2 linked regions of the Homo sapiens genome follow. Changing the gene in region 2 together with the main gene of any one other region gives a genetic interaction. Each region holds a gene or a part of one and is shown on either strand. Other genes may lie near its edges. The genes, in order: NUBP1 and PPAT.

Evidence for each region.
Region 1: changes in PPAT (region 2) and NUBP1 together harm fitness more than expected from each alone (negative genetic interaction), as found in Homo sapiens cells (one large-scale study listed by BioGRID).

Annotation. Positions count from the first base shown.
Region 1 is NC_000016.10:10,746,644-10,750,466, reverse strand, and holds part of NUBP1 (cytosolic Fe-S cluster assembly factor NUBP1), read right to left. Parts: intron 3,325-3,823; coding exon 3,191-3,324; intron 1-3,190. UniProt on the Homo sapiens protein: Component of the cytosolic iron-sulfur (Fe/S) protein assembly (CIA) machinery. Required for maturation of extramitochondrial Fe-S proteins.
Region 2 is NC_000004.12:56,400,912-56,404,734, reverse strand, and holds part of PPAT (amidophosphoribosyltransferase), read left to right. Parts: intron 1-1,333; coding exon 1,334-1,446; intron 1,447-1,549; coding exon 1,550-1,695; intron 1,696-2,553; coding exon 2,554-2,626; intron 2,627-3,253; coding exon 3,254-3,405; intron 3,406-3,823. UniProt on the Homo sapiens protein: Catalyzes the formation of phosphoribosylamine from phosphoribosylpyrophosphate (PRPP) and glutamine.

The sequences.
Region 1 (3,823 bases), on a different chromosome or scaffold from region 2:
AGTTCGAGACTAGCCTGGCAAACATAGTGAAACCCTGTCTCTACTAAAAATACAAAAATTAGCTGGGTGTGGTGGCACACGCCTGTAATCCCAGGTACTCCAGAGGCTGAGGCAGAACTGCTTGAGCCCGGGAGGTGGAGGTTGCAGTGAGCTGAGATCACACCACTGCACTCCAGCCTGGGCAAAAGAATGAGACTCCGTCTCAAAAAAACAAACAAAAAAAGTTTAATTTATGGAAGTTGGTGACTTGTTATTTATTCATTGTTTTTGAGGTAGAGTCTCACTCTGTTGCCCAGGCTGGAGTGCAGTGGCATAATCACGGCTCACTGCAGCCTTGACTTCCCAGGCTCAAGTGATCCTCCTACCTCAGTCTCCTGAGTAGCTGGGACTACAGGTGCTTACCACCACACCTGGCTAACTTTTTTTATGTTTTATGTTTTGTAGAGACAGGGGTCTCACTTTGAAGCCCAGGCTGGGAGTCGGTGACTTTTGCAGTGGAAGACAGTGTATGACTCTTGGCTGTCTCATGGCTCAGGCTTATGCTACAGAGGCTCCTTCTGCCTTCACCACAACTTACACACTCCCTGGGCAGCCTGTGACTCGTCAGGGGTGTTTTCTAATTCTGCTCTCTCTTGATCCAAGGCCCTTTGTGCCAATGAGATGACAGGCGCCTGCCTGCCTCAAGCGCTAACATGGAATGGTCTTGCACAGAGTTAGAGCCAAGCTTCCACCAGATGGCAGGCAGAAAAAGGTCAGGGCATGTCCCACCACCCTGCTGGATTTAGGGCAGGGAGAAATCTGTGCTGCTTGACTTTAATCAAGACATATTCAGCATTTTCCATGTGTTGACACTTTGCAGATAGTGATGTCACTGTCATGAGTAGGTCTGCCTGGGGAAAACACACTTTCCTAAATGCTGACTTCTTTTTTTTTTAAACCACCACTGCATAAAAAAATACAGCTGATCTAGCCATATTTCCACACTGAATGGTGTGCTTTCCTTCTGTATACTGCAAAGTCTAGACAGGCATGCAGCAAAGACTTCAGAACGTAATTACATGAAAGTGAAGGATGTAAACAGTTGTCTACTCACAAGTGGTTACTTGCAAGTGGTGAGATGAAAGCCCATCTCCAGTGAGCTGTTTAGGAATATTCCTGACAGCTTCGAAAAGCAAAGATTCTTCTAAACGATACAGACAATCTGAGAAAGCAGATTTCTTGGCCAGCCCACTAGGCCAGTACAGATTTGACCCTCAAATGGCAAGAGATCGCTGACTCACAGAATGACGAATCAACGTGTGTGTGTGTGTGTGTGTGTGTGTGTGTGTGTGTGTGTGTGTATGTGTCTGTGTATCTATCTATATCCTTTTTTTTTTTTAAATGGAGTCTTGTCTGTCACCCAGGCTGGAGTGCAGTAGGGCAATCTTGGCCCACCGCGACCTCCGCCTCCTGGGTTCAAACGATTCTCATGCCTCGGCCTCCCGAGTAGCTAAGACTACAGGCACGTACCACCATGCCCAGCTAATTTTTGTATTTTTTAGTGGAGACAGGGTTTCACCATGTTGGCCAGGCTGGTCTCAAACTCCTGACCTCAAGTGATCCGCCTGCCTCAGCCTCCCAAAGTGCTGTGATTACAGTGTAAGCCACCATGCCCTGCCCAACAAGTGTATTTTGAATCTGCCCAGTACTATACCTTGGGTAGGCTACAAACTCATCTCTAAGGCAGATGTAATCATCATCCCTTCATATCCAGAGAGTGAAATAAAGTAATAAAAATGGTGGCCATCACAGACCTTTACTGAGCATTGACTATTCGTCGGGCCCCGTGCTAAGTGCTTTACTGTGCCATCTCACTCAGTCCTTGGAGTCCCATTTTATAGATGAGAAAACGGAGGCAGAGTAAGCCTGGTAACTTGCCCAAGGTCACAGCAGTGGTGTAGATGGAGCTGGGACCTGAGTTTGGGCTGTCTGACTCCAGAGTGTGTGCTCTTAGCGACCCACCAACCCCTTTTATTAAAGTTGAGATCCAGAGGGCAGCAGTGGGTAATCTGAGTTTTCATGCTCGTCTGTATGCATGGGTGGAAATGAATAAACTCGTGTAAGGGCCAGCAAAAATTTTCCACAAGGGCCAACAGCAAATATATTATTAGGCTTTGTGGGCAAAATCAAGGATCATATGTAGGTACTTAGGTACTAATTTAAAAATTGCAATTTTAGGCCAGGCACGGTGGCTCATGCCTATAATCTCAGCACTTTGGGAGGCCGAGGCAGGGGGACGCCTTGAGTTCAGAAGTTCAAGACTAGCCTGGGCAACATGGCAAAACCTCATCTCTACAAAAAACCCAAAAATTAGCCGGGCATGGTGGCAAGCACCTGTAGTCCCAGGTACTTGAGAGGCTGAGGTGGGAGGATAGCTTGATGAGCCCAGGAAGTAGAGGTTGCAATGAGTCCTGATCATAGCAATGCACTTCAGCCTGGGTGACAGAGTGAGATCCTGTCTCAAACAAACAAAAAACATTTCAAAAATGTGAACATTCTTAGTTCAAAGGCCATAAGGCAGGAGATGGGCTGGATTTGGCCCACTGGCTATAGTTTGCAGGTCCCTGGCTTAGAGAAAAGCTAAAAGGGGTTAATAAAGAGGAAAAAGAAGCGTGAACGTAATGTAATAAACTATCCACATGCAAGGACAGATGTACATCTGCTAGCCATTTTCTTGGCTAGGGAATCCAGTGAAATGCTTCATTTGACTACTGGGCATTTCTTTGCTCTCTGCCGGATTGAGATTCCAAAGAGGCCAATTCAACTTAGTATAAGGAATCATTTTTTTTTCTTCTTGGACAGTCTCATTCTGCCACCCAGGCTGGAGTACACTGGTACAATCTTGACTCACTGCAACCTCTGCCTCCTGGGCTCAAGCGATTCTCATGGCTCATCCTCGCGAAAAGCTGGGATTACAAGCCTGCGCTACCACGCCCAGCTAATATTTTGTATTTTTAGTAGAGACAAGGTTTTGCCATGTTGGCCAGGCTGATCTCAAACTCCTGGCCTCAAGTGATCTGCCCGCCTTGGCCTCCCAAAGTGCTGGGATTACAGGCATGAACCACTGCGCCTGGCCTAGGAATCAGTTATTTAGTAGCCATCACGACCCTCAGACAAAATGAGCATCTCCCAGTGGTTCCTGAGGTCTCACCTGTGTGTTTTCATCCTCTGCTAGGCCATGGGCAAGGTGGGCGCTGAATGTGCTTTTCCCAACACCGCCTTTCCCAGACAATACCAAGATTTTGTGTTTTACAGTCTTCATTTTCTCTTTGATTTCCTCTATAGCTGCAAAGAAAACCAAAGTTCAGGGGATGAGGTCCCACACCAAACCTCGAATGTCACGCTTCCAGTCAACTAGAAAGAGCTAAGTCCTAGTCCTAGTACTAGTCCTGGGGCTGTTTAAAACGATCCTCTGAAATACCTCTCAGACAATGGTAGAAATAAGTGCTAGGAAGAAAATAAGGCTATTATCACACTTGAAGGGGTCTCATTTATTGGTTTACACGTTTGTCTCCCCCAACTAGAACATAGTCTCCACAAAGGTAGGAACTGTCTGAAGCTTTCAGTGCTGTATTCCCAGCTCCAGAAGAGAACTTTGCAAACAGCAATGGTCACCAACTTGGGGACAAAATCCCCCAGAGACATTTGGTAATGTCTGGAGACACTGTTCTTTCTTTCTTTTTTTTTTGAGACAGAGTGTTGCTCTGTCGCCCAGGATGGAGTGCAGTGGCGTGATCTCGGCTCACTGCAACACTGCCTCCTGGGTTCAAGCGATTCTCCTGCC
Region 2 (3,823 bases):
TGTGCTTTTCTGTCCCCAAATGAAAAAATACATAGTTCATTTAAAAATTCAGACAATCATGAAAGTATAAATATGGAGTAAAAATTTCTTAAAAATTCACCACTTAGAGATAACCACTAACTCACTGTTTCCTGACATAATGACTTACCTAGATGCTAAACTTTATCTTTACCTTTAGCTCCCTACTGAAAATGTTCTGTAGTGCCCATTCAGACTCAATCTGTGCATGTCCATGGGGCTGCCCTTGTCTTGGTCAGTCCTGCTCAGAACTTTGTAATTATCATAGAGTACACTCAAGCGATATTTATTACATCTGCTACATTTCATTGTTCAATACAGTTGATTACTTTCTTCTATCAGTAATAATCAATGAGGATGGGTAGCCACCATTATGATCACTAACAAACCCAGCTTGAAAGTTATCACTGTAGTGTACTACTTTTATAGGAATATACCCAGTTCATCAAGAGTGTTGAGGGTAGAAAATGTCAGACCCACAAATCAAATTTTTGGGAACCCCTACCCACTTTCAGGTCTGCTTGCCTTCAGATTTAGTATTCAAAAGCTTTTCTGTACATCTCATAAAGCACATTTTTCCTGCTTGAAAATCTTCTAGATTTCCTATTGCCTCCAGCCATGGTCATCCGTTATTAGTATATACATACTATTAGCGCAGGAGTCCCCAACCCCTGTGCTAGGGACTAGTACCAGTCTGTGGCTTGTTAGGAACCAGGCCACACAGCAGGAGGTGAGTGGTAAGTGAAACTTCATCTGTATTTATAGGTGCTCCCCATCGCTCACTATTACCACCTGAGCTCTGTCTCCTGTCCAGATCAGCAGCAGCATTAGATTCTCCTAGGAGCATGAACCCTGTTGTGAGCTGTGCATGCAAGGGATCCAGGTTGTGCTCTCCTTATGAGAAGCTAATGTATAATGCCTGATGATCTGTTACTGTCTCCCATCACCCCCAGATGGGACTGTCTAGTTGCAGGAAAACAAGCTCAGGGCTCCCACTGATTCTAGATTATGGTGAGTTGTATAATTATTTCATTATATATTACAGTATAGTAATAATAGAAATAAAGTGCACAATAAATGTAATTCGCTTGAATCATCCCCAAATCATCCCCTGTCCCTGGTCCATGGAAAAATTGTCTTCCACCAAACTGGTCCCTGGTGCCAAAAAGGTTGGGGACTGCTGCATTAGTGGGATGCAGGATTTTTGTAACTGGACATCCACAGAATGCCTTATTTTCATTATGGTTGGCTACTGGGTTTGGGGTGGGGTGGAGCTTCCCCTCTGATGATTAAACTTCTCTTTTTTTCTATATAGCTTCTGCGTCATGGTATTGGTCTGTCTACAAGTTCTGATAGTGAAATGATTACCCAGTTACTGGCGTATACCCCTCCTCAGGAACAAGATGACACCCCAGACTGGGTAGCCAGGTAAGCAGAGAACTGGACTAAACTTAGAGCTCTAGTAAGGAGAGTTTTGCCTTGCATATGTTTATAACTGAAGTTATTCATTCAATTATTTAATTAATTCCAGGATTAAAAACTTGATGAAGGAAGCACCCACAGCATACTCCCTGCTTATAATGCACAGAGATGTTATTTATGCAGTACGAGATCCTTATGGAAATCGTCCCTTATGCATTGGTCGTCTTATTCCAGTGTCTGATATAAATGACAAAGGTAATAAACTTTAGAAGGAATATCATTTCATAGTGTTTTTCCATTATTGTCCTACTGCTATCAAGCCCTGAAATCTTTAGGTATAGAAAGTTGATGGGTGGGAGGGAGCTAGGTAAGAAAAATAAAAATAAATGTATTCTTCCTTTTTAAAGTACGTTTCTTTGAGTACTCCTGAGGATGAGTCCCCCCCCTTTTTTTTTTTTTTTTTTTTTTTTTTTTGGAGACCGAGTTTCACTCTTGTTGCCCAGGCTGCTGGAGTGCAGTGGTGCGATCTCAGCTCACTGCAACCTCCACCTCCCAGGTTCAAGTGATTCTCCTACCTCAGCCTCCCGAGTAGCTGGGATTACAGGCGCACACCACCATACCCAGCTAATTTTGTATTTTTAGTAGAGACAGGGTTTCTCCATGTTGGTCAGGCTGGTCTCAAACTCCTGACCTCAGGTGATCTGCCCACCTTAGCCTCCCAAAGTGCTGGGATTACAGGCGTGAGCCACCACGCCTGGCTGGATGAATCCCTTTTAATGTTTTTAATAGAGATTCCTATTTTTTCCTGTCTTAATTGGCTATTCATGTCCTTTGCCTAGCTTTTTCATTTCTGCAGTATGATTTTAGTGGTTTCTTTTCACTTTTATCAAGATATCTTTTTCTAGCCATGAAATCATAATGTTAGAAGGAATCTTAGAAGATCATTTATTTTATCTTTGGCTCAAGTCAAATGAGGATCCATGTGCTCTTAAAGTCATAGAAATGGCTATTCTATGAGTTTTATTTACTTATTTATTTAGTGTTAGCTGTTCCATTGAAATAGCCTCTTAAAATTTCTGGAATCCATTAATTGAATTGATTTGTGATTTACAGAGAAAAAAACATCAGAAACAGAAGGATGGGTGGTGTCTTCAGAATCTTGTAGCTTCTTATCTATTGGTGCAAGGTAAGTTTTACCTTGTTTGACATATTTTATTTTCCCATGTTGAAAAGAATTTTTTTTAGACAGTTTCTTATTTATGTGAAAGTTTGAAAGTTTTCTTTTTGATGTCTGCAAGAAAATATTTATAAATGGTTTTTCTTATGCATGTTATGCTCAGCAGTTGCACTGAGTTTAATGTTCTAGTAATAGCTTCTAATTCTGAAGCTGGCATTCTTTCAAGATACTATGAAACTTATTTTCTTTATTTTGTATATTTTTCTCTTTTTACAGTACAATATGAAAATAGAGACTTATTTTAGAAAGGAAGAACTTCCTCAATGAGAGATAGTTATGACAGAAAAATGTAAGCCAGGAGAAAATGTTTTCTTTATACTTTATTCTTTTAAAATTCAATACAACTTAGGGCCCTTAATTTTTTAATTCTATACTAGAACTTAGTGTTTACAGAGAGATTATAAAGAAATCATTGCAGGAGACATACCACTTTAAAAAGTCACTTCTAGATTTTATATTGAATGAATCAATTGTTTCTCTAAGGGAAGGTACTCTGTGTGCTTTATAATTAATATTTTCATCAGCCTTAAGGACTAGTTTATTAAAAGTCTTCTTTCTTTAACATTGTTTCCCAAGATATTACCGTGAAGTCTTGCCTGGAGAAATTGTGGAAATATCCAGACACAATGTCCAAACTCTTGATATTATATCAAGGTCTGAAGGAAACCCAGTGGCTTTTTGTATCTTTGAATATGTTTATTTTGCAAGACCAGACAGTATGTTCGAAGGTAAGTAGATTTCTTTTCTTTGAACATTCATATAAATGTTTTAGCTATCTCCTTGAAACATGGCAATTCTTGCCTCAAAGGCTTACCTGGCTCTTTGAAGGCATATAGTTATATGTTGTGGATATAGGACTGAGCCCACAAGTCATAAGATCACTATTTTTCACTTCCTTTTGACTCTTGGATTTTGTTTTTTGTTAGGAGTAAGGATTATGATTTTCTAGATCTATATGAAGGTCGATTTTTTTTTTAAAACCACACAGTTGAGTTCCCCAGTTTGTGTATTTTCACATTCATATTTTTGTATATATTGCATTTCTTTTTATACTCAATCTGTAGAATTCTAGCACTAGTTTTTTAGAATAACACTGTTATATCATGCTAAGTAAAAATACTCTCTCTCCTTTTCCAAACACACCAG